Homo sapiens: one gene and its partners. The protein of the gene in region 5 purifies or fractionates together with the protein of the main gene of each other region. This does not show direct contact. Each region holds a gene or a part of one and is shown on either strand. Other genes may lie near its edges.

Region 1 (4,204 bases), on a different chromosome or scaffold from region 5:
TGACCTCAGGTGATCTGCCCACCTCGGCCTCCCAAAGTGCTGGGATTACAGGTAAGAGCCAGTGTGCCCAGCCAAGATAATTAACTGTGGCATATTAAAAACCTGAGCTGGAGTCCTGGCTCTACCATTTACTAGCTATGTGACCTTAGGCAAATTAACCTTTCTAAATGGCCTCATCTATAAAACAGGGATAATGATGATTCCCATTTCTGAGTTGTTGTGAGGATAAATTAAATTACGTCATCAGTGTTGTAAGCACTCAATAATGATGGTTTATTTTGGTGGTAGTAGTATTTGCCAATGCTAATAGTTGTAATTTGCTACTTGTGTGTTAATTTTGGATGGGTGTTGTATCTTTTTTTTTTTTTTTTTTTTTTTTGAGATGGGGTCTCGCTCTGTCGCCCGGCTCAAGTGCAGTGGCACGATCTCGGCTCATTGCAACCTCTGCCTCCCAGGTTCAAGTGATTCTTCTGCCTCAGCCTCCTGAGTAGCTGGGACTATAGGTGCATGCCACCATGCCCAGCTAATTTTTGTATTTTTAGTTGAGACGGGGTTTCACCATGTTGGCCAGGATCGTCTCCATCTCTTGACCTTGTGATCTGCCTACCTCGTGATCTGCCAGAATGCCCAGCCGGGGTGGTGTATTTTTATATTTAAAAAAAGGGGGCCGGGCATGGTGGCTCACACCTATAATCCCAGCACTTTGGGAGGCCAGCGTGGGCAGATCACCTGAGGTTGGGAGTTTGAGACCAGCCTGACCAACATGGAGAAACCTTGTCTCTACTAAAAATACAAAAAATTAGCTGGGCGTGGTGGCACATGCCTGTAATCCCAGCTACTTGGGAGGCTGAGGCAGGAGAATCGCTTGAACCTGGGAGGTGGAGGTTGCGGTGAGCCGAGATTGCGCCACTGCACTCCAGCCTGGGTAACAAGAGCGAGACTCTGTCTCAAAAACGAAAAGGAAGAGAAGAAAGTTGCTGATTTGGTTCCTATGGATCTTTGATGTTCTCTGGGCAAATAACTCACTGCTATTTAGTCTGTCATAAACATGATGTGCTGTCTTTTATACATGAAGATAATAAAATTGATTCCTTTATTGGAAGTTCTACAGACCTTTGGCTAAAAGTACCACAGCTCAAAGTTTTTCGTAATCTGCTTTATGATTATTACTTTTTTTCTTCATGGGGATTGGCTGTACATCTCTTAAATGGTTCTTTTTGACACTTTAAATGGCGGAGGATGGCCAGGCACGGTGGCTCACGCCTGTAATCCCAGTACTTTGGGAGGCCGAGGCAGGTGGATCACCCGAGGTTAGGAGTTCGAGACCAGCCTGGCCAACATGGCAAAACCCTGTCTCTACTAAAAGTACAAAAATTAGCCCGGCTTGGTGGCAGGCGCCTGTAATTCCAGCTACTCAGGAGGCTGAGGCAGGAGAATTGCTTGAACCCAGGAAGCGGAGGTTGCAGTGAGCTGAGATTGTGCCACTGCACTTCAGCCTTGGCAACAGAGTGAGACTCCGTCTCAATAATTAATTAATTAAGTAAGTAAGTAAATGGCCAAGGAGGGTTTGAGAATCTTCTTTCCAAATAAAAATTTCCCTGGTATGAAGCTAGTTGGTCAAAGTTGTACCACAAATGCTATTTGATCTGCAATTGCTGAGATGTATTACTCTAGAAACTCCTTTAACTTTAATTTGGGTATTTAATGGATTTTTAAAATGGGATAGTACACTCATATTAGGACGTAGCTCATTGGAGATTTGAATGTATTTTACAATATGTTAATATTTAAATCTTTATTTCCTTGTGTGAATCAGCAGTTTTCAAGTCTGTCAATGAGAGGAAAAAAATCTGGGTAGAAATAAGATCAGATACATCAAAGATTACAAATTTTATTAGAGGGCGTTGGAAAGGAGTTTCATGTGATTATGTGACTTAGTGTTGCCTGAGTGCAAGATACTTGTGGATTGAGACGAGAGTAAGAATGTTTGCTTCTAGTTTTGTGTTCCCATATGACTTATATTATAGATTCTTGCAGGTTGAGGATGTGTTAACATGATTTAACCCAGATAAGCTTCAGGAATATTCTTCATTCAATTATATATCAATTTAAAAATTGTCATTTTGCCATTTGCATTTTTTTTGAATTTTTTTCTTACATCTTTTGAAACCTAGTAACTTGTTCATTTTTCAACTTTTATTACAGTGCCTGATCAACTTTCTAGCGGGAGAACGATCATGGAGGTGGTGCCAGCTGAGGTGAATAGTTTGCTTCCAGAGGAAATAATGGACACTGGTATAACTTTAGTGGATGATGATAGTATTGAGGCTGTTATTGTTTCATCCCCAATTCCCATGGAGACAGAACTGGAAGAAATTGTCAACATAAATTCTACTGGTGACTCTACAGCCACGCCCATTTCCACGGAACCAATCACAGTGTACAGTAACCACACTAACCAAGTTGCAGTGAATACCACAATTACTAAAGCAGATTCTAATACCACAGTGAAACCAGCTTTTCCAAGTGGCCTTCAAAAACTTGGTGCTCAGACTCCTGTGACTATATCAGCCAATCAGATTATTTTAAACAAAGTATCACAGACATCTGATCTTAAACTTGGCAATCAGACCCTTAAACCAGATGGACAGAAGTTAATTTTAACAACTTTGGGCAAGTCTGGTTCACCAATTGTTTTAGCACTACCCCATAGCCAACTACCCCAGGCTCAGAAAGTTACAACTCAGGCCCAGTCAGGAGATGCTAAGTTACCACCGCAGCAAATTAAAGTAGTTACCATTGGAGGGAGGCCAGAGGTGAAACCTGTCATTGGTGTCTCAGCATTGACCCCAGGAAGTCAACTGATTAATACTACAACTCAGCCCTCTGTGTTACAGACCCAACAGTTAAAAACAGTACAGGTAAAAGAAAAAAGGGGGCTTACTAATTAAAATGCATGTTTAAAAAAATTTAACTGATTCATAGTTGTGTTTATAGGGTTACTAAATACATAGTTGTTACTGAATTCTTTTGAATGTTGTTTTATGTAATTGTGTGTGTGTGTTTTTAAGTTTGATATGTCTAATGCTTATGAAAATTTTTACCAGATAACTTAGAAAGCAAACTTAATTTTGGTTAAATTCCAAATTAGTATATTTATAGCCTTTTACTAATTTTAAAATGCATTTTATTCTTAGTGGTAGTTTGATTACAAGGATGTTTTGCTGGTATAAATATGCCAGACTTGCTGCTGGGCTATCAAAAAAATCATGTAGACAACATTTTTTTTTTTCAGTTCACAGATGGCCAAAGGCTAGGAGAACTTTGTTGCTCTGAGAAACCCTCAGAGCCAGTAATAGTGCGTGTCAGCCAGCGTGTGCCTTTTATTTGGAGTTTACTGTTCATTGCCATTATTCATGTTTGTACTATGGAAAAGACAGTGACATGTGATGGAAGATAACATACAGGCTTTAGAGTTGTACCAACTGGGCTTGAGTTGCCTCTATCTTATCCTACCAGTTATGGAAAACTTTCGTAGGTTACTTATCTTCTCTGAGTTTTTGACTTTATCTTAAGAATACTTTTTGATCAAGATGAAATGTGTAGTATAATTCTCAAAATATTGAGGATGTTTCATAATGGTACCTATTATTAGTATGAATAGGACCCTAAGAAAGAAGGTTACTGGAATATATATTAAGTGATTTCCAGTTTATCATGCCCAAATAGGCTTTCTTAGGCCACCACTACTCTTGGAAATGCAGTGATCGGCGGGGCGTGGTGGCTTAAGCCTGTAATCCCACCCAGCACTTTGGCAGGCTGAGGTGGGCGGATCACCTGAGGTCAGGAGTTTGAGACTAGCCTGCCCAACATGGTGAAACCTCATCTCTACTAAAAATACAAAAAATTAGCCAGGCATGGTGGCGAGTGCCTATAATCCCAGCTACTCAGGAGGCTGAGACAGGAGAATCGGTTGAACCCGGGAGGCAGAGGTTGCAGTGAGCCGAGATCGCGCCATTGCACTCCAGCCTGGGTGACAAGAGCGAAACTCCATCTCAAAAAAAAAAAAAAAAACAAGAAATGCAGTGATATACTTATGACCAGGAAACAAAAATGTATCCTCTGTTTGAAAGAGTTGTCTTTGAATGCATAGAAATAATAGGAAATGCATAAGAAGGAAGTAGGAAGGTTTTGGGAGACTACA
Region 2 (4,204 bases), on a different chromosome or scaffold from region 5:
TGGGACACTGCTCTCCACCCAGTCCTATCAGCCCCAACGAGGCCCTTCTGGAAAACCTGCCCTCTGATACCTCTAATCACGTTATGTCTGGAGTCCCCTTCTGGGGCTCTTCCAGCAAAAGGCCATCCTCTGGGGCGTCTGAGAGCAGAACCTCAGCCAAGGGGGCCACAGTACCCTCAAAAACCACTAAACCACTGATACAGGCTCTCTGGAGCAGGGACACTGTGCCCCCAGGTGCCAGAGGACAGAGACAGGATCCACCCTGGGCCAGCCATAAACATGCCCAACTCAACGGTGGCGCCTGACTCCCCAGGCCACACAGACTGGCAGGGCCACACTGCGGCCGCTCAGCCTGGGCACTGCTTCTCCAGCGGGCCAGCCCGCTCCCCACCACTGCTTCTCCAGCGAGCCAGGCCGCTCCCCACCACTGCTTCTCCAGCGGGCCAGCCCTGCAGAGTCGACATAGGCCAGCCTCCAACACTAAGAACCGCCAGCCGTGCTGCTGACTGGCACCCAGCACCTGCAGGGCCAAGGGCCACACCAAACACCCCTCCAGAATGTGTAGCCTGTGGACCTTCAACATCCCCAGCTCTCCTCCTTGGTGCCTGGAGCCCGCCGAGTGCAGCAGTGGAGTACACAGGCTTTGGGGTCAGAGGTCAAGGATCACCATGCCCCACCTTGAACGCTCCCCTCCTCTGAGCAGAGAGCTAGGAGGTCCAGTTCCTCACAAAGCCAGAGAAAGCCCATGGTCAACTGGCAGCTCCCTTTGGGCCAGCCACAGGCCCCACAGCCCAGTGTCCAGAGTGGACCCAGGCTCGGGGGCCCGGCCCAGCTGCACTGACCCAGGGCAGCTCACGTCCGCATCCACTGGTTGCTGAGGAAAGGTCCCAGCTGTCCGGTGGGCAAGGCAGTGGGGTTAAGGGACACCTTCCTTCCACAAGCGCCTGCCCTGGCCGACTCCCAGCAAAGGCTCAGGAACAAGGCATCGGTGGCAGGATGGTCTGTCCTGTCCCTAAGCCCCTCCCAGAGCAGGGGGAGGTTGCCTGGGCTGACTTCCTGCCCCTCACCCACAGCGCTGGGACGGGGCAGAAGATGCGAGGGTCCTCCCACCCGACCCACCGCAAACCCACAGTCCCTGGACCTCACCCCATTAGGGGTCGTGGGAGGTTACAGGTGGGACCTTGGCCCACCCCAGCGACACGGGTACCCGGGCAGTCACATGCCTCACCTACTGGGAAATGTCACCCTACAGACCACAGCCTCAGCCTGGGCTCAGATCCCACCCCAGGTGATGTGTCAGAGTGGAAGCCAAAAATGCCCCTCATGCCTGCCCCCACCGACACATGAAGGGCCTCAGTGGGGTACCACACTGTGTCTGGTGCAGGTGGGGCCCAGCTCGGCAGGCCCTGTGTCAGTAGCATGTGGAGGGCGTGGGGGTGCCTCTGGCTCCTGGCTCTGAAGTCAACATCCCCCGGCACAGGAGACTCCACCACCTGCGAGCACCTGTTCCCGGGGGAGAAGCTGGGTCCCCAAGGCTGAGGGCATTCCCATGCAGCCAGTGGCTTCCTCCCACACGCTGTGCTGGCCACAGCAGCCCCTCCCAGCCAGGTTACTAAACTTGGGTTTGAATCGTAAAGAATAAGGAGAGGACTGCTTTCCTGAAAACACTACTCAGAATCCCAACAGAAGCCTCTCCGCAAAATTAAAAAGAGAGAGACATTGGCAAGTGCAGGCAGCAGGGTCCCACCAGCCTGGAAAGTCTCCAGAAGTCATCATAGAAGGGAAAAAGAAGCCTCGATCAATGATGCCCACACCCAGCCACACCATGACAAGCTTGCAGAGGATGCCAGTGAGAGACAGACCACTCCGGGGGGCGTGCGAGGACTTCATTCACCCAGCCCCCGAGGAAACGGAGCCAGGACACCCCCGCCCACTGTGGAAGGGAGAAAAAGAGACGCCAGAGTGAGTTGGGCAGAGGGTGGCCCCACGAGGCCAGGATGCCGATGGGCCCTAGGGAAGAAGGACCCCGCCAGCCCTCCCCAGCCGACCCTCCCGCCAGGCGGGCACCCCAGGGAAGGCCGGACTCACTTGCGTGCTTGTCGGCCAGGGCGATGAGGGTGCTGGAGATGTCCCGCCTCCGGTAGAAGCACACCACTTTGGCCTCCACGTTCCCATTGGCCGTCTGTAACAGCAAGGCAGGGGCGTCTGAGAAACGCGACCAAACCCGGGCTGCACAGCTCCCAGGAGGGGCTCCAAGGCCGGACCCTGCCGTCCAGGGACTGCAGGTGTAACCACACCACCCCTCGGGACTCCAGGAGGGCACTTCACAAATGGAGCAAATCCTGCAGCTCTGGACGCCCGTGGCGTCTATCCCAGGGGAGAAGGCGGGCGTGTGCACCCAACCTCAACCTGTGTCTCCATTCTCCCTCCCTTCCAGACCCCAGTGTACCACCTGAGAACAGCAGGGTCCCAAGGAGGAAAAGGCCCCCGCCACACTGGGTAGGACCTCAGTCAGCTCCTGGGAGGCCACGCCCAGCTATCCCAGCCCCTCTGGGGTGACCTGCACAGCAGCCACGGCCCTAGCGGCGGACGCAGCCTGGACCCCCCGCATGGGACCAGCCCTCCCACCTGGCCTGGCTGACAAACGTCTCCAAGTCAAGACGGCTGTAAAACGCCACCAGAGAAGCACGTATGTTTTCTGAACGAGTTTTTATAACATCTTTGCTACTGCAAGAATTGTGCTGTAATTCTAATCACAGTGCAAGTGCCTAATGGAATACTATTTATAACTCTTTTTTTTTTTTTTTTTAAGATGGGGTCTCACTCTGTCGCCCAGGCTGGAGTGCAGTGTTGTGATCTTGGCTCACTGCAACCTCTGCCTCCTGGGTTCAAGTGATTCTCCTGCCTCAGCCTCCCAGGTAGCTGAGATTACAAGCGTGAGCCACCACGACCAGCTAATTTTTGTATTTTCAGTAGAGACAGGGTTTTGCCATGTTGGCCAGGCTGGTCTGGAACCCCTGACCTCAAGCAATCTGCCTGCCTCAGCCCCACAAAGTGCTGGGATTACAGGTGTAAACAGCACCCAGCCTCACCTAACTTTTTAATTTTTTGAGATAGGGTCTCACTCTGTTGCCCAGACTAGAATGCAGCAGTGTGATGTCAGGTCACTGCAGCCTCCATCTCCCAGGACCACAGTCCAATTACACCATGCCTGGCTTTTTTTTTGAGACAGAGTCTTGCTCTGTCGCCCAGGCTGGAGTGCAGTGGTGCAATCTCGGCTCACTGCAAGCTCCGCCTCCTGGGTTCACGCCATTCTCCTGCCTCAGCCTCCCGAGTAGCTGGGACTACAGGCGCCCACCACCACGCCCGGCTAATTTTTTTGTATTTTTTAGTAGAGACTGGGTTTCACCGTGTTAGCCAGGATGGCCTCGATCTCCTGACCTCGTGATCCGCCCGTCTTGGTCTCTCAAAGTGCTGGGGTTACAGGCGTGAGCCACCGCACCCGGCCTTTTTAGATGGAGTCTCACTCTGTCGCCCAGGCTGGAGGGCAGTGGTGCGATCTCAGCTCACTGCAACCTCCACCTCCCGGGTTCAAGCGATTCTCCTGCCTCAGCCTCCTGAGTAGCTGGAACTATAGGCACCCACCACCACACCGGCTCATTTTTGTATTTTTAGTAGAGACGGGGTTTTACCATGTTGGCCAGGATGGTCTCTATCTCCTGACCTCGTGACCCACCCGCCTCAGCCTCCCAAAGTGCTGGGATTACAGGCATGAGCCACCGCACCCAGCCAACCTGGCTAATTTTTAAATTTTTTGTAGAGACGGGGTTTCACCACATTGCTCAGGCTAATCTTGAACTCCTGGACTCCAGCAATCTGCCCGCCTTGGCCTCCCAGAGTGCTAGGATTACAGGAGTAAGCCAAGGCACCTGGCCACTTTTCTTAAAGATAATTTGGTTTAATGTTATAAATGGGTTGGGGGCAGTGGCTCACTCCCAGGAGTTCAAGACCAGCCTGGGCAACATGGTGAAACCTCATCTCTATAAAATGTGTTTTAAAAATTAACCAGATGCAGTGGTGTGCGCCTGTAGTCCCAGCTACTTGGGAGGCTGAGGTGAGAGGATCACTTGGGCCTGGGAGGTCAAGGCTGCAATGAGTTGAGATCGTGCCACTGCACTCTGGTCTGAGCAAAAGAGCAAGACCT
Region 3 (4,204 bases), on a different chromosome or scaffold from region 5:
GAGAGCCATCTAGCTCTCTGCAAAGTCTAAAACTATTTACTATCTGGCCTTTTACAGAAAACGTTTGTACAACTCCTGCACTGTATCAATACCTGACAGTTACTTATTTAAGTAAATACAACAACCCTAAATAGGAATCCTATAAAAAAAACTTCAGGAAAATAATAAAAATAGGCCATAAAGGTCATATTACAAAGGACGAAGACCAAAGTCTAGAATATAAATTCCAGAGACTAAATATTTAATTTTTGGATATAAAAGCAACTCAAGGCAAAATGGTACTAGAATATGATGGTATTTTCCAGTTTTTCTCCAAAAACAAAAACATCTCTCTATATGCAAGTGAATAAGTTCTCCTCTAGTTCTAAGGTCACCCATTCCCAGTTTCTGATTAACATCTACCAGAGAAGCTACAACCACCTCACATAGAAAACGTCATAGAAATTGACTGAGGTCAAATGGGAGTAGTGGTTTCGGGATTTTAAAAATCTAACTCGGTAGGGACTCTCAAGCACCTATCCCCCAAATATTTAAGCCAGCCTTCCCATAAAACCAGACAAGTCTCAAAGAATAAAAGCTCAATAAATGATGCTTGATTGACACAGCCTAAAGAACTACTAAGCCATTTAAGTCATAATCTTAAACCTAGGCATCCAATTAAATGTATTATGCCTTAGTGCTCTTCTGAAAAAGCTTCTGTCTTTAATAAATCATTTAAATCCTTTAGGTTTCAGTCACAACAAAAATGGGCTCACCACCTTTTCTACATCATCAACCTCCTCACTCTGGTAGTCAGAAACAACATCCACAATTTCATCAATAGAATCATCAGTTTTCTCATTATCATCTTCATCATCTTCTTCCAAATCCAAAACAGTGAAGTCAGCACTGCTTCTCCCACCCTTCTTCTCTTGCTTTGGTTGTATCTGTTCTCCAGGTAGCAGTAAGTGACCCTGAAAATGTCCATTCCCTCTGCTGCTTTTTGCAGCTCTCCTAGGAACAATGGAGAAGGCTGAAGGATTAGAAATCCTACTCCAAGAATCACATTCAGTTTTCAAAACTCTGGCATCTTCAGTAATTCCACTTTTTCCAAGTAAGTCAGAGATGCCTTGTTCTTGCTGAAACACATCTGAATTTTCCTGACATGTCTTTGTTTCTTTAATTAACTGCTCGTCTGCCTCTTTCTTACATTCCTGTGAAGCTCCAACACATTTCCTGGTTAAGGGGCCCTTCAGATGTTTTCTCCATCTTTCCCTGTCTTTCTCCAGAGAGTCTCCACATTCCTTCTCTTTGGCCTCTGGCTGTAGATTAGATTGCTGCTCCATAACTTTGCTTCCTGACAATTCAAATTTACTTTCTTCCTTAAAGGTGACTGGAAATTCACTTGAGTTTTCTTCTGGATTGTCAAATCCTTTCTGCTGTTCCACCTTCACATCACCAAGTTTTTGATGCTGTACTTTACTTAAATTTTGGACTGTCTTATTACTGGCTTTTTCAGAAATGGTCCTAACTTCCAGAACAGCCACTTTTTCTTTGGAACTCTTACGATTCCTAGCCCCATATTCTTCATTAACATCTTTATAATCTTGATCTGTATGTGACCCAGTGATACAGGAATGCTCAGATGGTTTGACAGTTGCACAACCTTCTTCTGGAAGGCATTCTTCATCCAAATGATCACCCCTATCTTCCAAGGAATCATTCAGAGTTTCTTCTGAGGTAGCAGCTCCTGAGTTTTGTTTTATTACATTAGCCTCAGGGTCTACAGCCTCTCCTTCTGACTGTAGAACCTTCTTCGTTTCTTGCTCTCTTTTTATTGAGTTTGTTTCATCTTTCTGGTCTGGATTCTGAGATTCTCTCTTCATCTGAAGGGAAGCAACATGCTGAAGAATGGAGCTAGGAACAGGCTTTTGTCCTGGGAGCTGTAACAAGGCAAAACTACCAGACTGGAGAGGAATAAGACTGGCTGTACCAACAGGCTGTCCTCCTGAGCTATAAGTTATTTTGGTTTCAGAGCCTGTTTTACTTGCAAAGCTTTGTGGTTCAGGAGGAGAAATCCTCAGGGTCAATGTACCAGCCTGAGACACAAAACTAGCTCCAGAGGAAAGCAATGATGGTGCCTGAGTGATAACATTCACTGCTGAAGAAGACCCAACAGCTTGAATTACAGGATTCATGACAGAGAAAGCAGAGGACGAAGTGGAAGATGGCGGAGTCTCAGAGGGTTTGGAAGGAGCAGGTAACCGGATTCCCATCACAGACCCTGGTTTAAAAAATAAGAGAGAAATTTTTAAATCATGACTGCCCATATCAAGACTTCCAATGTTTGCTTTTCTTTTTGGAAAAGTAACTCTTAAGAGATGAAGAAAAACAATCTTGGTGTATTAACATACCATATGGCCAAGTGATTCAACAAAAGAAAAGTTCATAAAAAAGAACTTTATACCTGGGTTCCGAAACATGACAGGCTGTAAGTTGGGCTGGGTATTAGAGCCTCGAAGCTGATGCAAAGGTAGAAGCTGGACAATCTGCCCATTAGGGTGCCTGAATAAGTTCATTCCACTTGGACTCCTAACAGGCTGCAAGACCATCCGATGTCCCTGAAGTTGTGTGTTTGAGACAGGTCTAAGAGTAGGAGAACCCTGCTGCACTGGAATCAACAACAATCGAGGTCCAGCACGTTTCACTGTGTTAGGAGAGACCTGTGGAGTAGCCACTGGAATTTGAGCAGCATTTTCTGAAAAACAGGAAATGGAAACATGGTACCCAAATTCCCCTTTAACACACGTAGGAAAAAAAAGTATTCATAATATTTTTTAAGACACAGTCTTGCTTTGTTGCTCAGGCTGGAGTGCAATGACACAACCTCGACTGACTACAACCTCCGCACCTCCCTAGTTCAAGTGATTCTTCCACTTCAGCATACCGAGTAGCTGCGACTACAGGTGTGCACCAGCACACCTGGCTTATTTCTGTATTTTTGGGTAGAGACAGGGTTTCACCATGTTGGTGAGGCTGGTCTCAAACCCCTGACCTCAAGTGATCTGCCGTTCTCGGCCTCCCAAAGTGCTGAGATTACAGGCGTGAGCCACCGCGCCCAGTCTATATTTTTTTTTTTTTAAAGAGGCAGGGTTGCACTTGTCACCTTCAGTGCAGTAGCTCAATCATAGCTCACTGCAGTCTCAAACTCCTTGGTTCAAGAGATCCTCCTGCCTCAGCCTTCCAAGTAACTGGGACTACAGGGATGTGTCACTACACCTGGCTAATTATGTTATTCTTTGCAGAGACAGGGTCTTGCTTTGTTGCTCAAGCTAGTCTCAAACTCCTGGCCTCAAGTGATCCTGCCATCTCGGCCTTCCAAAGTGCTGGGACTGCAGCCATGAGCCACCATGCCCAGTCATTAAGGCACAGAATCTGACCTTGCTTCAAATAACGTCTAATTTGGATTATAAAGTTGCTGAAATTCTGTAGTTTCATAATACACTATTTATGGCTGAGAACAGCCAGACATTATGGAGCTTTACATTTAGAATGGTAAAAAATAGAGTATCAACTGTCAAGAGGCACATTTAAAGAGATAATACTTTTGCCTAAAGAAAAACATGGTTATCTCTCTAAATCTGGATTCCTGTTAAAGGGATCATTCATGATAAAATTATGCTTCAACTTCATTCTTTTGAGACAGCATCGCACTCTGTCACCCAGGCTAGAGTGCAGTGGTGGGATCACAGCTCACTGCCACCTCGAACTCCCAGGCTCAGCCTCCCAAGTAGCTGGGACCACAGGTGCACGCTTTTTTTTTTTTTTGTGGAGATGGAGTTTGCTATGTTGCCCAGGCTGGTCTGGAACCCCTGGGGCTCAAGCAATCCTCCTGCCTTGGCCTCCTAAAATGTTGGGATTATAGGTATGAGCCAATGTGCCTGGCCTCTTATGTTTTTAAATAAAATCCAGATTCTGCACAATTTAACTTTAAAATTAAAGCTCATAACACTTACTAGAGTTATGGGTCAATTTCTAAGCTTATACCACCTGAGGAAGATAAAGAACTAAAAATCCTTGGTTTATAAAGGGCTTTTGGTTTTTAAAATTCACTAACAAATATGCAAAGCTTAAAGGTTTGTGGGAATTATTTTTCAGAAGGAAAAAATTACTTAAGCCCCCCAAAATGGAATGAAATTAAGAGACATCAAAGAAGCAGGGAAAT
Region 4 (4,013 bases), on a different chromosome or scaffold from region 5:
CTACTAAAAATAAAAAAAAATTAGCCGGGCGTGGTGGCGGGCGCCTGTAGTCCCAGCTACTCGGAGAGGCTGAGGCAGGAGAATGGCGTGAACCCGGGAGGCGGAGCTTGCAGTGAGCCGAGACTGCGCCACTGCACTCCAGCCTGGGTGACAGAGCGAGACTCCGTCTCAAAAAAAAAAAAAAAAAATACAAAAATAAGCCGGGTGTGGTGGCACGTGCCTGTAATCCCAGGTACTCCAGAGGCTGAGGCAGGAGAATCCCTTGAATCTGGGAGGTGGGGGTTGCAGTGAGCCAAGATTGCACCACTGCACTCTAGCCTGGGCAACAGAGACTCCATCTCACAAACAAAAACAAAAAAAAGGCTTTTTTTTTTTTTTTTGAGATGGAGTCTCACTCTGTTGCCCAGGCTGGACTGCAGTGGTGTGATCTCAGCTCACTGCAACTTCCGCCTCCCAGGTTCAAGCGATTCTCCTGCGCCAAGTTGCTGGGATTACAGGCGCATGCCACCACACCCAGCTCATTTTTGTAGTTTTAGTGGTGACGGGATCTCACCATGTTGGCCAGGCTAGTCTTGAACTCCTGACCTCAAATGATACGACCACCTTGGCCTCCCAAAGTGCTGGGGTTATAGGCGTGAGCCACTGCGCATGGCCTAACACCTCCTTTTTTAACTAAAAATATCCTGACCCACTAGTAATGAGACTAACATTATTTTAAAGTGTTTATTTTTTTCTATAATACATTTCATTCAAATCATAAAAGTCTGATACATTTTTTTCTCAAGAACAACTTACACTCATTTGAGATGCTTTTTCTTTCCTTTAATCTTATAGGATGGACAAAGATACACTTTAATGGACAAAAAACACCAGAGTTCATTACAAATACAGCTTCCCAGGCCCCACCTCCAGCACTTCTGACTGAGCGTCTGGGACGCATCCTAGGATCGCAAAACTGTAAAATTCCCCCAGTCAACTCCACGGCAGGCAGGCCTGGAACCACCCTTAGTGGAACACTGCTTAGGACTTGTCTGTTATCTACCAGAAGCAATTTCAGAAAATCAGGAGTAATTACGTATACAGAAATAGCTCTTCTATAAAATTTCCATATAAAAATAATGGCATTTATTTACAAAGTCTGAGATACTACAAAATAATATATCATATTAGGTTGTGTACTTCAATCTAATAAAGGAAAGTCTACATTGGGCAAGTCAGATGTGGTGGTTGCATTTTCCTCTTATCTCTCTTGTTTAAATTGCTTAAAGCATGTGGCACCACGATGTATCCTTCATGCAGAAAAAAGGAGAACTATATTTTCTGGAAATAAAACCCAATAGCACATAGTCAGAGTAAAGCATTTTCAGATGAAAAGGTGAACAACCTAGTGGTTTGGGCTCATGGCCCTTTACCCACCTTTTTTTTTTGAGATGGAATTTCGCTCTTGTTGCCCAGGCTGGAGTGCAAATGGCACGATCTCAGCTCATTGCAACTTTTGCCTCCTGGGTTCAAGAGATTCTCCTGCCTCAGCCTCCCGAGTAGCTGGGATTACAGGCATGCGCCACCACACCCGGCTAATTTTATATTTTTAGTAGAGACAGGGTTTCTCCATGTTGGTCAGGCTGGTTTCGAACTCCCGACCTCAGGTGATCCGCCCGCCTCGGCCTCCCAAAGTGCTGGGATCACAGGCGTGAGCCACTGTGCCTGGCATACCCACCTCTTTTGTCCAAAACTCAAGAGTGATGGTGGTGAACCAAGTGCGTGAAGGAACTCAGTACTGAAACGTGATCCCCGGAGTGCAGCCACCTGGGCAGCCAGTGCATATGGTTAGTGGGTGGTTCCATTTTTCAGGACACTGAGAGGTTGAACCTGCCATGGAACTACTGGGAAAACTAGAACTGCAACAAGCCCAGAGGAGCTATTCAGGAGAAAAGTAGCCCCATTGTCAGTGACGTTTTAGTATGAAAATCCTGGCCCCAGTGTGAACAAGCACAATCGCCAGGCCATGTGACATGAAGCTCGGCCATGGTGAAGTATGGTAAGTGACAAATGGCATGCATTGAAGCACGACAAGGGATGAGTTTTTAAATCCAAACGTGATCTGGGGAATTTTCCGTTATGATTCGACAGACATGGGCAGCACCAGCTGGTGTGGTGTGGAAGGACCAGTTGGTCACTGAACTTCTTGGGCCCCTGCCAATGGCCAGCATGGGGAGCCCTTGTCTGTGGAGGTCTCAGCCCGGGGTTTTCTGACTTGAGAGAGGCCTAAACCTGACACCACAGCCTCATGCTGGGGCTCGGGAAAGGAGTCCCACTTCTACCCCTCAGCTGTTTGGCACTTGGTGACACAGGACTGATGCTAATCCAAAACCCATCTGGGAGGACTGTGGTGACAGCGTGGCCCTCACGGAGGGAAGAAGCTCTGGGTTTTGGTGCAGGCTCTGCCACAGACAGGCTGAGGGATGGGAGGCAAGTCAAGCTCTTGCTTGTTTCCCATCTCTAAATGAGCAGGGTGGGAGCGATGTTATCCCCGATCCTGAGACCTGCGGCGAAGGGGCGAGGCCTGACCCTGAGCATCAGCTACGTTGGCCTCCAATGCAGCTATAAGCAGTGAAGACCAAAGTCTAACCTGCTGAAACAGCAAGGGGCAAGACAGCATTGACTTCAACAGGCCTTTTTTGTAAAGCAAAAGGTAAGATGACAAGATCCGGTCTTGTCTGAGAACAGCTGCACAGAATACACATTATAAATGAGCACTTTCTCCTATCTCAGCACCCTGGTGAATGGGTGTCAGAGAAGTTTCTGGACCTGTCAGGGACTCCCAGGGCTTAGCCAGAGGGTCAAAGTGTTGTGCCCACTCACTTTTTCTTCTTTAGCATACTGTGGAGTGAGACATGTGGGAAAATCGGATCCCAGAGATTACCTAAGCATCACTTCTCAGAGACGTTTTGGTTAAGGGACTACTTCCTGAGAAACGTTATAATTTATGTGGGTATTGAGCTTGAATTTTTTTTAATCATAAAATCTTAGGCTGGGCGTGGTGGCTCAAGCCTGTAATCCCAGCACTTTGGGAGGCCGAGGCAGGCAGATCACATGGTTAGAAGTTCAAGACCAGTGTGGTCAACATGGTGAAACCCTGTCTCTACTAAAAATACAAAAATTAGCCAGGCGTGGTGGCACATGTCTGTAATCCCAACTACTTGGGAGGCTGAGGCAGAAGAATCGCTTGAACCCGGGAGGCAGAGGTTGCAGTGGCTGAGATCATGCCACTGCACTCCAGCCTGGGCAACAGAGCAAGACTCCATCTCGAGGGGAAAAAAAATATTATGCAAACATCAGGTTTTTCTCTTCTTAGTAACCATGTTTGGCTTGAGTGGAAATTTAATCAAACACTGTTATCAACTGGGAATTTGAGGGCAGGGAGGCACATTGCTGAGGGTCATTCAAATGGCATGGTGCAGGCTCCTGATACATAGTGTGGGTCTTTGGGAAATGCATATTAGTTTTCATCAGTGCTTGGGGACCATTGCTTTGGGTGCATGAATATGGGAACCCATTTGGGAAAACGGTTCTTAGAAGTCCAGTCATCAGCTTCACCAAAGCCAGCCCATATGCAGAATACAGATGATCTCTTTGATGTAGCCAACAACTTAGAAACACGTAAAATAGTTCTCAATTTCTAATCATTTTTCTTTCTTTCTTTTTTCTTTTTTTGAGACAGAGTCCTGCTCTGTCACCTGGGCTGGAGTGCAGTGGCGGGATCTTGGCTCACTGCAACCTCCGCCTCCTGGGTTCAAGTGATTCTCCTGCCTCAGCCTCCCGAGTAGCTGGGACTACAGGCATGTGCCACCACGCCCGGCTAATTTTTGTATTTTCTAATGATTTTTCTACTGCATAGATTCAGTTGGAAAGTAGTGAATCTTTGTGACAATCTTCTCTTGGTTTACAGAAATTGCTGGTAGCTAACTTTGCTTTGAAGTCTTAAAAGTTCCCAAACAGACTCCAAAATGAAG
Region 5 (4,204 bases):
CTACTGATAGATCCAAAGCAAAGAATGGGCCTCACAGGGGCCCAGAAACGCTCATGAACTGGGAGGCAACCTTCTGTACATACGCGAATGTTTGGGAGAGGGTCCACATAGGCGAATGTTCGGGAGAGGGTCCACATAGGCGAATGTTCGGGAGAGGGTCCACATAGGCGAATGTTCGGGAGAGGGTCCACATAGGCGAATGTTTGGGAGAGGACCCACAGCTTTCATTAGGTACTCAAAGGGGGTCCTCCCTTTCCAAAGGGAATGGCCACTGATCTGGTCTGTATTTTGTAACTTAAGTACTGAACAGGAAGGCCAGGAATTTACTAAAGAGATCAGTGAAGCAGAAATCTGGGTTTAAGTCCCAAACAAACCTACAGGGCAAATCCCAGTTCTACAGTTTTTAGTTGTATACCTTTAAGTAAGTTACTAAAATTTCTGAGCCTTTATAAAAAGGAATTTTTTTAAAAATCAAATTTTTTAAGATCGTTAATTGGACTGAGAATGTCAAGCCCTTAGCAAGTACTCCCAAACCATAGCTATTAATATTACCAATATTATTCTTAGCTCTCGGAAGAGAGGGATCTTTCGGTGCCTTAAGTAAAATCTACAAAATGGGGAAACAATGGTAATTGTCTCACAAAGGCGACAGTGTATGAAGCAGTAAGCAGAAGGATCTGGGACACAGCAATTTCTAATAAACATCGGTGGTGCTCAAACTTCGCTGCACATTAGGATCACCTGGGAGCTCTTCCAATCTCTGTCCAGGCTACACACCATCCCAGTTAAATCAGAACCTTTCGGAGTAGGACCCAAGCATCAATATATTTTACATAATATTTTCCCCCCAGGCTGGAGTGCAGTGGCACGATCTCGGCTCACTGCAACCTCCACCTCCCAAGTTCAAGCGATTCTCCTGCCTCAGCCTCCCGAGTAACTGGGACTACAGGCGTACAACACCACGCCTGGCTAATTTTTGTATTTTTAGTAGAGACGGGGTTTCATCATGTTGGCTGGGATGGTCTCGATCTCCTGACCTCGTGATCCGCCCGCCTCGGTCTCCCAAAGTGCTGGGATTACAGGCGTGAGCCACCGTGCCCGACCAGCATCAATAATTTTTAAACTTTCCAGGTGATCCCAACATGCAGGCAAATTTGGGAAGCAGTGTTGCAGATGCTGGTCCCAGCTACTGGGAAACAAGGTAAGATGAGGCCCCTGAGATGAGGTTCCAGCCTCAATTCCGCCATTCTCCTCCTACAGAGCCACACTAGGTATGTCATTCTACCTCCTTGGACCTCAGTATACTTATCAATAAATGTGTGGGTTCAACACCACATCCAAGAATCTTTCCATCTCTAAAGATTCTATAAATATCAGTAATTTAGAAAATTGGCAAGACTTTCTAGGTAGCTGCCTGTGACATGGAGTCCGAGGAGGCATGGTCTTCCTGAAGCCACCGTGGCTGGTGAACCTTGGGCCTGTTTCCCAACTTCCTTTGAAAGGATTTATAAAAGTGTGGGGTGAAGACCAAGGGTGTCAGACTCCCCCATAGTTCTTGTTTAAAATGTACTGAATACACCAGACTCTGGGGGATGATGGTAGGTAATGGAGCGTAGCTTCAGGAACCTATAATTTAAAAAGCTCCACAAATGGATTCTACTGTCCTCTGAAGTTTGAGAACATAATAAATACCAGCTGGCCACAAGCAAGGACCTTTTCAAACTTTCCTGGCCCTGGCCTTCAGTCACTTGGTGGTTCCTGTCTCAGCACCAAAGGCACCGGGAAGGATCCAAGTGATTGCCTCTCACCTGTAACCTAGCCAAGATACTGGCTTTCTTGGAGTTGGAGGAGTAGCTCCTGGAGCAGGAGACGCTGCAGAACCTCTTGGTCTTGGAGAAGAAGGCTTCCCTTGTACCCACGATACCACACATCTCACAGACAGCTGGGAAGAGAACTTAGCACATGACTCACCCGATATGACCACCTCAAAGCAAACAAAGTGATGGGCCCTTCAAAACCTGGGGCACTGCATTAACCAGGTGAGCCCCTGCCCCCACAAAGGCTAATGGAATAAGAGGAGGAATGGGAGGTACTGGTGTGTATATCCTGAATCTACCTGAATGAAGTGCTGCTGCTTGGCCTCCCTTGGCTACAGATGTCAACAGAGGGGCTAATGGAAATCCATGAGGACGACTGGGGGAACAGGTGAGTGTTGAAAAGTTTGTCAGAGGAAAGTGAGAAGAAACTAGGCATGGTAGCTCCTGTCTGTAATCCCGGCAGTTTGGGAGGCCAAGGAGGGAGGATTGCTTGAGGGCAAGAATTTGAGACCATCCTGGGCAACATAGCAAGACCTTGTTGCCCAAAAAAAAAAAAAAAAGGCCAGGTGTGATTTGGCGGGGGGAAACTGCCTGAGCCCAGGAGGCTGAGGCTGCAGTGAGCCATGACTGCACCACTGTACCTCTAGCCTGGGCAACAAAGTAAGACACTGTCTCAAAAAAAAGCGAAAAAATTTATAGGAAGAAAAAGTGCCAAAGTCACTTAACCTCTGTGGCTCTATTTTCTCATCTATATAGTAAAGGGACTGAACTAGATCAGTGTTTTATTTATTTATTTTTGAGACGGAGCCTTGCTCTGTCACCCAGCCTGGAGTAGTACACTGGCGCAATCTTGGCTCACTGCAAGCTCTGCCTCCCGGGTTCACGCCATTCTCCTGCATCAGCCTCCCGAGTAGCTGGGACTACAGGCACTGCCACCACACCCAGCTAATTTTTTTGTGTTTTTAGTAGAGACGGGGTTTCACCATGTTAGCCAGGATGGTCTCAATCTCCTGACCTTGTGATCCGCCGTGTCGGCCTCCCAAAGTGTTGGGATTACAGGCGTGAGCCAATGCGCCCAGCTAGATCAGTGTTTTAATCGTGACTTCACTTTTTTTTTTTTTTGAGATGGAGTTTTGCTCTTGTTGCCCAGGATGGAGTGCAGTGGCGCCATCTTGGCTCATTGCAACCTTCGACTCCCGGGTTCAAGGGATTCTCCTGCCTCAGCCTCTTGAGTAGCTGGGACTACAGGCATGTGCCACCACGCCTGGCTAATTTTTTATATCTTTAGTAGAGACGGGGTTTCGCCATGTTGAGCAGGCTGGTCTTGAACTCCTGACCTTGTGATCCTCCCGCCTCGGCCTCCCAAAGTGCTGGGATTACAGGCGTGAGCCACCATGCCTGGCCCGTGACTTCACTATTAGACCCACCTGGGGAGCTTTTAAAAATGCCTGAGATGGCCGGGCGCGGTGGTGGGCGTCTATAATCCCAGCTACTCCGGAGGCTGGGGCAGGAGAATCCCTTCAACCTGGGAGGCGGAGGTTGCAGTGAGCTGAGATGGCACCACTGCACTCCAGCCTGGGCAACAAGAGTGAAACGCTGTCTCAAAAAAAAAAAAAAAAAAGCCTGAACCTAAAATTCTAATGAATTGGTCTGTGACGGGATACTGGTACCTGTAGTTTGTTAAAAGCTCCCCTAGATGATTCTAATGTGCAGAACCCCTGGTCTAAGTGGTCTCTAATGGTTCCTTCTAGTTCTAAATCCTAAGATTCTAAGAGAAGGGCTGGAAGAGGATAGAAGGGAGAAAGATAAAAGGCAAGGGATGAAAAGAAGACAATATAAATAGAAAGGAAGTAAGGCCGGGAGCGGTGGCTCACGCCTGCAATCCCAGCACTTTGGGAGGCTGAGGCGGGCGGATCACGTAGTCAGGAGATTGAGACCATCCTGGCTAACACGGTGAAACCCCGTCTCTACTAAAAAATACAAAAAATTAGCCGGGCATGGCGGAGGGCGCCTGTAGTCCCAGCTACTTGGGAGGCTGAGGCAGGAGAATGGCGTGAACCCGGGAGGCGGAGCTTGCAGTGAGCCAAGATCGTGCCACTGCGTTCCGGCCTGGGTGACACAGCGAGACTCTGTTTCAAAAAAAAAAAAAAAAAAAAAAAAAGGCCGGGTGCGGTGGCTCACGCCTGTAATCCCAGCATTTTTGGAGGCCGAGGAGGGCAGATCACAAGGTCAGGAGATCGAGACCATCCTGGCTAACATGGTGAAACCCCGTCTCTACTAAAATACAAAAAAAATTAGCCGGGTGTGGTGGCAGGCGCCTGTAGTCCCAGCTGCTGGGGAGGCTGAGGCAGGAGAATGGCTTGAACCTGGGAGGCGGAACTTGCAGT
Region 6 (4,204 bases), on a different chromosome or scaffold from region 5:
ATTACCTGATCTCAGTGCAAAAAACATTTATTTTACTAATTTTCTCAACTTTTGAACTTTCACTACTAATCATATGTAATTTCCTTTTGCAGTTCTTTTGGTCATCCATAACTATGGTAATTCTTCAAGTTCTTATGCTGCTATCACCTAGGGCAAACCCTCTTTTCTTCGTATATTTTGATTTTTGAATAAAAAACACCAAACCAAATCAATCTATTTATACTTATTAAAATCACAAAATCATTTTCTCCTATCAATTGTAATTATAAAATGCAGTTTCTTTTTTTTTTGAGATGGAGTCTTGCTCTGCTGCCCAGGCTGGAGTGCAATGGCATGATCTTGGCTCACTGCAACCTCCGCCTCCCAGGTTCAAGCAATTCTCCTACCCCAGCCTCCCGAGTAGCTGGGACTACAGGCACATGCCACCACGTCCAGCTATAAAATGCAGTTTTTAATCCTCGAAGAGATCTAAACTGTAAATCCTCATTTTGTAGATGTGGAAACAAGAGGTCCAAAGAGTACGTCATGTTTATTTTGAGTCCTTCACATATCTTTTTCACCATACTGAACACAGAGAATTGTAATTATTTCACATTAGAGTATGAAATTTGCAGAAATGCCATTACAAATATATCTTAATTGACACAAACTTGATCAACAGGAAAGCTAATTTAAAAGCTCTGTGAAAATTATTGAATACAGTGAATCAAAAGAACATTCTGTAAATAATTAATATTCAGACAAAATCTCCTCTAACATATACCTCCAAATAAATGAATGAAACACAGATTTTACCCACCTCCCGTATGACTTGCTGCAACTCATCTTGCTCCACATTTTTATGCATTTCCTCAGCAGCTGGCATTGATGGGAGTTTTCCATGCCCTTCTTCCACTTCAGATTTAGGTCCTACAACTTCTGGGGCTCCTTCAGCTGCATCAACTTCCTCAGAACTTTCCAAATCTGGAGGTGTCTGCACAGAGCCTGTTCTAGAAGGAGCTGTTGGCGTTAGAGCCACCGATGCTCGGAACACTTTCTTCCTTGCCACTAATGGGGTTTTGGATTTGCCCACTGAGGCAGTAGAAGGTACTCCAGTTCTTCTGTTAGCATGAGAGGGACCAGAACATACAGAAGATGATTCTGATGTTGCTTGGGAAAAAACAGATTCTGAGCTTTCTCCAGGAGGAATTTCAAATCCCATTTCTCCAAGTCCCAGGCCCAATTCAGACTTCAGGTATGACTGCTCCTGCATCAGTTCAGTGACCTGGAGATCATAAAAAAATGTTATTCTTCTCTCTTGGAATTAAGATTGGTAGCTAAAAAGGTTAAAGTCCTGGTTGTCATTATTGCCTAAAATCATGTAATTTGTAAAGACATAAATCTATTCCATTAATTTAATAACTACTCAATTTTATTTGCAAAAATGGTAAGTAAAATTTAAATTCCTATTGAGATGAAGCAACAAAACAGGTAAACAGAATACATAGTAGGATGAAATTTTACTTGTTACCACCAAAGTGTCCAAATCACTTGTAAGGAAGAGTAACTAGTGAAAAATAGTTACTCATAGTGCTTTTGCCCCCAAATGAACCAATCTGTCTAACACAATAAAGACAGATTTCTGTTAAAAACGTGGTCATGTTACAGCTCTAACTACCTAAAGAACCAGGATCAAACTGTGAAAGCACATGTCTCCTGAAATGTAAATTAAAAATCAATTTTCTTTTTTTTTTTGAGATGGAGTCTCACTCTGTCACCCAGGCTGGAGTGCAATGGCTTGATCTCGGCTCACTGCAACCTCCGCCTCCCGGGTTCAAGCAAGTCTCCTGCCTCAGCCTCCCAAGTAGCTGGGATTACAGATGCCTGCCACCATGCCCAGCTAATTTTTGTATTTTTAGTAGAGATGCGGTTTCACCATGTTGGTCAGGCTGGTCTTCAACTCCTGACCTCAGGTGATCCACTTGCCTCAGCCTCCCAAAATGCTGGGATTACAGGCATGAGCCACCACACCTGGCTTATTATTTTTTAAAGACAGGGTCTTGCTCTGTCACCCAGGCTGGAGTGCAGTGGCACAATCATAGCTCACTGTAGCCTTGAGCTCCTGGCCTCAAGCAATCCTCCCGCCTCAGCCTCCTGAGTAACTGGGACTACAGGCACATATCACCATGCCTGGCTGATTTTTAAATTTTCTGTAGAGAAAGGGTCTCATTTTGTTGACTAGGCTGGTCTCAAACTCCTGGCTTGAAGCAATCCTTCCACCTCAACCATTTAAATAAAGTGCTGGGATTACAGGCATGAGCCACTGTACATGTTTTTATGGTGCATTACCTCCTTTAGTCAGAAAGATAAATCACTATTGCAATTCAGGTGGCTTTCTAGTGGCTTCAGACAGCAATGGACTTTCAAAGGTGAAAGTCACTTCCAATCAACAATAATTTATCAAATTATGTATTTAAAATAAACATATATTTCATCTAAACTAGGGAAACTATGTGTCTGAAATGTTGTATCATTCCCTTCCCCAGTGATTTAAGAGGAAAGAAGCTTACTGGTTCCATTACATTCAATGGAGAAGGGCATGACAAGTTATCAGCGCTTCTACTGCCACACATTCCCTGAAAAGGTAAGAACAATATATATATGTATATGTGTGTGTATATATACATACATGCATATATAATTATAATGTACATATATATTTTTTCAAATCACAAGACTTTTATAATAAAATTAATTGGCTAATTAGTGCCTGGAAGCATCCCTTTATGTCACAAAGGTTACTCTCAAGTGTCACAGATCCCATAAAATGCATTATTGTGAGTTAAAACTGATACAATATGCAAAAAGGATGTTCTAGTTCTCCCGTCACCAACATACACTTCTCAGAATGATAAATCAAAACCATGTTGAAAAGTACATTCATTAGCAATACAGAACATCCTTAGTCTATGCTATACATATATGTGTTTATACACCATTGTTTATTCTACTTCATTTATAGTATATACACACATAATTGTATGTGTGTATATTCATCCATTTCTTTTTAACAAAATCAAATACATTGTTAAGGTAACAAAGAATAATTCACTATTTCAGCATTTCAAAGCAACATATTCTACAACTTCAAAGATATTTGCAAAAATAATACAACTGTTGAAGTTCAAATGTTATGGAAAGAAACATTAGAAGTATGAAAAGTGGTACAAAAACATGTTTCTTTTTATTCTCTTGGATATATATCTATATATTTAGGAAAATACATATATGTATGTGTATGTATATATATGTATGAAAATATACAGGTATCATTTGATTCCTTTAAAAACAAATGGAAAAGAATCCAAAATAAAGAAAAAGTTTAAAAGGAACACTTTTTTATTTAAAGGCATGAAAGAAAAAAAAACAGCAAAATATGCATCTGTGTTCTCTGCAGTTACATGCAACAATTAAAATTTACATTAGTCATATGTTAATTCACTAGCATTTTTCCTTTAAAAACCCTCAACTTTCGTATAAGCCCTTATTCTTTCCTGTTATTAAAATTTATCATTAAAAATTTTCAACATATTTCTAAATATACTATTTATGACAATTATTACAAATTGTACATTCAACTGATTTGTGGGAAAGCTCCTTAAACAGTATGCATGCTTTTAATACCATTAAAATAAATGACTTGAAATGAAGGCACACGTCCTAAATTATTGGAACATTATAAATAAACCTTTGGTGAAAACTCCGACCACCCTCCAGGTAGCGTACCATGAGTGCGGAGGAGCGGAAGGGTGAAGGCATGCGCACAGCACGAAGCTGCTCCTCCAGGCCCAGCAGGCGCTCCTCCAGCTGCAGTTCCAGGTCCTGAAGTTCCATTCGGACTGAATTTCTCAAACCCTGGAGCTGATCAACTTCAAACCTATTGGTATGGTGAAGGGCACAAAATTGGAAAAATGCAGTTTGGAGATTCCTAATCACAAATCTTTCAACAACTACTATATGCTAACAGAAGGCATGGAAATCTCAGGTTCTAGAAATTAGTACAATATCAACTACAATAGGTGTATCCACAAGGACATTAGTCTTTCTTCCCCTATCCTCTCACAAATATCTCAAACACGGGAAAGCAGGTTACCACTACCCTTAGGATATTGAAGGCATACAAGTTTACTTAGTAAAACACTATCTATGACTAATCTTATCTACA
Region 7 (4,204 bases), on a different chromosome or scaffold from region 5:
TCACGGTATTCACAGAGGAATAAAGATCATAAATAGCCTCACATTGATTCAGGTTAAGATTTTGATTCCAAATGAGTTACCAAAATTTTTTTCAATTTTCAGGTCATTTTGGATTTCAGAACTGTGAAATGTACCTTTAGCCACAAAGATAAGTTGACTGCAAAAAGAGACTCAGGAAAAAAAAAACAAGAGAAAAGAAAAAAGTTTATTATTTTCATCTTCCAGACTACTTAGCCCACTATCCATTTTTTATACATATTAACACATCTTTAATACATATTTCAAGGAGGTTATTCCTCCTTGAGACATTCGGAGCCTTGGCTTCCATAATACCATTTTCTTGGGATTTTACTTGTACCCCAAGGCCACTCCTCCACCAACCTTTAAACATCAAGGGTTTTCAGTTCAGCCATTCATTTAATAAATCAAGAGCCTACCATGTGCCAAGCAGGTACTGTTCTAAGGGTTTGGGTTCATCAGTGAACAATAGTTCTGCCCTAAATTCTCTTCTCTCGGGAGTTAAGTCCTGGGACCAGTCGTCTGTCTATGCTGTATCTTTTTCAGTCTCAATACTTCACCTGATATAAGCTGAGAAATCCCAAATTTCTATGTCTAGACTCTCCTCTCTGGATTATAAACTCACAGAGGTTAACTCTCTTCTCAGTCTTTTCACTTGAATTCAATAAGGATCTCAAATATAAGATGTTCAAAACAGAGCTCTTTATTTGTATTCCCAATCTTAGTGAGTAGTACCACATACCACCTAACTGCTCAATCCAGAAACTTAGGAGTCATCCTTCATTCTCTAACACCATTCCTCAGCTCCAACTCCATTTCTAATCCATCAAAAAGTTCTATTGGTTTGAGGCCCAAATCTCTCTTAAATATGTCTATTTCTATCTAAAATGCAACCATTACATTTTATATGGACCAATATGTGTTCAATTCTTGCTTCCAGCCTATATTCCACAACTCCTTACCAATTATTTTGAGAGAATGCATTCTATTTGAGAAACTTTCAATGGCTTTCCACCTCTGGGTAAAGTCAAATTTCTTACTACACAGTTTTGTGCAGTCCCACTTTTTACTGCCTAACATGGGACTCCACATTTTCCTTGTCTTCCTTCCCATTAAGTGCACCAAGTTCTATTAATAACTATCTGGCTTTGCTATTTGTAATATCTTATGTAGTAAACTCTTTTTAAGGCTGGCCCATTCTCTTCCTTCAGGTCTTCCCTTTTCTGATTACACTATCAAAGGTCCCCTCTCTTTTACTTTTTTTGTTTTTTTTTTTGAGACAGAGTCTTGCTCTTGCCACCCACCCAGGCTGGAGTGCAATGGCATGATCTCGGCTCACTGCAACCTCTCTGCCTCCCGGGTTCAAGCGATTCTCCTGCCTCAGCCTCCCAAGTAGCTGGGATTACAGGCACCCGTCACCATGCCCAGCTAACTTTTTTTTGTATTTTTAGTAGAGAGAGGGTTTCGCCATGTTGGCCAGGCTGGTCTCAAACTCCTGACCTTGTGATCTGCCCGCCTCGGCTTCCCAAAGTGCTGGGATTATAGGCGTGAGCCACTGCACCCGGCCCCCTCTCTTACTTTATACCTGCAGTCTTTTATTTCCTTCTTAGGACTTGAGCAATCTTTTGTCTATTTGGCACACAGTAGGAACTTTAAGCCTATTTGATATGTCTGAACCCAAAGCTGGCTTAATGAACAAGTAACAATAAGCAGACTGCTACTGAAATACAGAGGAATAAGGCTTAATAACCAGTACAAAAAAATCCTTAGACTTGATTTGAATTCTTCCAAGTTTGAATTTATTAACATTCCCTAAGAGATGCCTTCTCCAATCCCAAGTGTTTTCCTTTAAGGACTTGTCAACAGAAGCATTTAAAGTTTTTGTTAAGGAGTTTTGTTTGTTTGGTAGCAGAGGAAACACTTTGAAAAGGAAAAAAGAAAAATAAAGATTCCGGATGTTGAACTCTCCTTGAACATTAAAACTACAGTCAGTGTGGAAAAGGAAAAGTGGTAGACTGCACCAAACAAATGTGAATCTGTTTTCATCTAAACAATACCAAAAATGCCAAAATGCCACCCATCCTACCTAAATGTAGTTCAGAGTAGTTTCAAGAATTAGAGGGAACGTTATATGAAAGCGTTCTATCTATAAGAATAAGGAATTGGCCAGGCACAGTGGCTCACGCCTGTAATCCCAGCACTTAGGGAGGCTGAGGTGGGTGGATCACCCCAGGTCAGGAGTTCGAGACCAGCCTGGCCAACATGGTAAAACCCCCATCTCTACTAAAAAATACAAAAATTAGCCAGGGGTGGTGGCACGTGCCTGTAATCTCAACTACTTGGGAGGCTGAGGCAAGAGAATCACTTGAACCCGGGAGGGTAGTGGAGGTTGCAGTGAGCTGGGATCACGCCACTGCACTCCAGCCTGGGCAATAAGAGCAAAATTCCATCTCAAAAAAAAAAAAAAAGTATAAGGAATTAATAATTTATTCATCACTAATTAAAAAAAAAAGCTACGTTTTTAAATGTAGTTGGCGAAGATACAAACACAAGCAAAACAGACAGACTGTCCTAATGAAGCTTATGTTATAGTGAGGAGAGAGACAAAAGTTATATGGTACAACCAAAAGGAAGAAAAATAAGGCAATAACAGGGACTTAGGTAATAGGAGAAAGCATCTCTGATGAGGTAAAATTTGAAAGAAAAGAGAGGCAAAAGATTTCTGGGGAAAGAGAAGTATAGGAAAATTTCAGTCTTATTTAGTCATGTTTTATTGTGCAATTAGTATTACTGGTATTTATGAACTGCTGCTATAATTAATTTAGCACTTATTTGCCTCCAAAGAAATTATTACCTATTTCACGGATAATAAAGATTTATACCACAGCTAAGAACCCATGTAGTTGTATTAAAGGTTATTCAGCAAAAGACTTTGGTACTACTCATAAATACAAGTCTAAGAAAATCTGACAATCGTTGGCTGCCAAGTAGAATTTCTATAATTTGCTGAAGAAGGAGTACGTTGGGAGGTATCATCTTGGTAACTTTTTTTTTTGAGACGGAGTTTCGCTCTTGTTGCCCATGGCACTATCTTGGCTCACTGCAACCTGCACCTCCTGGGTTCAAGCCATTCTCCTGCCTCAGCCTCCCGAGTAACTGGGACTACTGGTGCCTGCCACCACGCCTGGCTAATTTTTGTATTTTTAGTAGAGACGGGGTTTCGCCATGTTGGCCAGGCTCTTCTCAAACTCCCGACCTCAGGTGATTTGCCTGCCTCAGTCTCCCAAAGTGCTGAGATTATAGGCATGAGCCACCACACCTGGCCTAATCTTGATAACTTTTGTATTTATATAGTTTTATCTGTATACAGTCTTTGAGTGTTTTTTTCTGGACCACTTGTCTCCAAAACTGATTATGCATCCCTCTCAGAGGAGGAAAAAATAGAGCACAGAGAAATTTGTGTATAGTTACATAAATTAGGTATATAAACCCTATTATACTGTATACACCATAAAAACAAGCACTAAATATGTTTGGCCTCAAGATTAATTCAAAACAAAGCATAAACATGTCTAGATACAGTATTAAAAATGTGAGTGGTATAACTAGAGCCTAACACAGCTTAGCTGCTAATTATATTTAAGTAGAGAAAAATCACATCGTTTTAAGGCCCAGAAGGGATCTTAGTGACTATCTAATTAGCTGTATCATTTTACAGATTCTTGATGATCTTCTAGTGTATAAAGAAGGAACATGATTCAGAAGTATGTTTTTGGGAATTTGGAGGCATGGATCAATAGCTACAGTCAGAGAAGTAATAACTTCTCTTACTTTTCTTCAAAGGTTTAAGGATACCTAATCCATCAATGTCTGAAGGTTCCCTTGGGACCAACGTTTCAGTGACCTAAAGGGTTACCTGAAGATTACATAACGTGCAGAGAACAATATGTATATATTTAAAAGTTCTTTCATTAAGATGCAAACAGCCTCAGTGGCAGACATTCTGTGTGGCCAAGAGGCTCCGTGTGCCTAACAGCCCCAGGAAGCCTAAAGGTAGGATTCCTATGGTTATAGAATTTGCTACTTCCGTCCTTTTCTTTTTCACTCACTTTCTTCCTTCTACTTCCTTTACCAAGAAGTTAAAACCATCTAACCTAGGCTAGCAGATAATTCAGACCCTATTACT

What was found.
Region 1: the proteins of L3MBTL2 (region 5) and LIN54 purify together in Homo sapiens (affinity purification with mass spectrometry; 4 studies listed by BioGRID and IntAct, with this or other methods). This does not show direct contact.
Region 2: the proteins of L3MBTL2 (region 5) and MTA1 purify together in Homo sapiens (affinity purification with mass spectrometry; 2 studies listed by BioGRID and IntAct, with this or other methods). This does not show direct contact.
Region 3: the proteins of L3MBTL2 (region 5) and MGA purify together in Homo sapiens (affinity purification with mass spectrometry; 4 studies listed by BioGRID and IntAct, with this or other methods). This does not show direct contact.
Region 4: the proteins of L3MBTL2 (region 5) and TFDP2 purify together in Homo sapiens (affinity purification with mass spectrometry; 3 studies listed by BioGRID and IntAct, with this or other methods). This does not show direct contact.
Region 6: the proteins of L3MBTL2 (region 5) and ITPRID2 purify together in Homo sapiens (affinity purification with mass spectrometry; 2 studies listed by BioGRID and IntAct, with this or other methods). This does not show direct contact.
Region 7: the proteins of L3MBTL2 (region 5) and HDAC2 purify together in Homo sapiens (affinity purification with mass spectrometry; 3 studies listed by BioGRID and IntAct, with this or other methods). This does not show direct contact.

The regions. Positions count from the first base shown.
Region 1 is NC_000004.12:82,982,878-82,987,081, reverse strand, and holds part of LIN54 (protein lin-54 homolog), read left to right. Parts: intron 1-2,205; 5' UTR 2,206-2,237; coding exon 2,238-2,921; intron 2,922-4,204. UniProt on the Homo sapiens protein: Component of the DREAM complex, a multiprotein complex that can both act as a transcription activator or repressor depending on the context. In G0 phase, the complex binds to more than 800 promoters and is required for repression of E2F target genes.
Region 2 is NC_000014.9:105,443,396-105,447,599, reverse strand, and holds part of MTA1 (metastasis-associated protein MTA1), read right to left. Parts: intron 2,183-4,204; coding exon 2,089-2,182; intron 1-2,088. UniProt on the Homo sapiens protein: Transcriptional coregulator which can act as both a transcriptional corepressor and coactivator. Acts as a component of the histone deacetylase NuRD complex which participates in the remodeling of chromatin.
Region 3 is NC_000015.10:41,747,170-41,751,373, reverse strand, and holds part of MGA (MAX gene-associated protein), read right to left. Parts: intron 2,738-4,204; coding exon 2,447-2,737; intron 2,264-2,446; coding exon 759-2,263; coding exon of another isoform or gene 756-758; intron 1-755. UniProt on the Homo sapiens protein: Functions as a dual-specificity transcription factor, regulating the expression of both MAX-network and T-box family target genes. Functions as a repressor or an activator.
Region 4 is NC_000003.12:141,943,719-141,947,731, forward strand, and holds the end of TFDP2 (transcription factor Dp-2), read right to left. Parts: 3' UTR 1,321-4,013; coding exon of another isoform or gene 1,292-1,320; 3' UTR 710-1,291; downstream 1-709. UniProt on the Homo sapiens protein: Can stimulate E2F-dependent transcription.
Region 5 is NC_000022.11:41,211,631-41,215,834, reverse strand, and holds part of L3MBTL2 (lethal(3)malignant brain tumor-like protein 2), read right to left. Parts: intron 2,206-4,204; exon of another isoform or gene 1,943-2,205; coding exon 1,809-1,942; exon of another isoform or gene 1,132-1,808; intron 1-1,131. UniProt on the Homo sapiens protein: Putative Polycomb group (PcG) protein. PcG proteins maintain the transcriptionally repressive state of genes, probably via a modification of chromatin, rendering it heritably changed in its expressibility.
Region 6 is NC_000002.12:181,919,008-181,923,211, reverse strand, and holds part of ITPRID2 (protein ITPRID2), read right to left. Parts: intron 3,917-4,204; coding exon 3,766-3,916; intron 2,616-3,765; coding exon 2,550-2,615; intron 1,265-2,549; coding exon 800-1,264; intron 1-799.
Region 7 is NC_000006.12:113,964,086-113,968,289, forward strand, and holds part of HDAC2 (histone deacetylase 2), read right to left. Parts: intron 1-4,204. UniProt on the Homo sapiens protein: Histone deacetylase that catalyzes the deacetylation of lysine residues on the N-terminal part of the core histones (H2A, H2B, H3 and H4).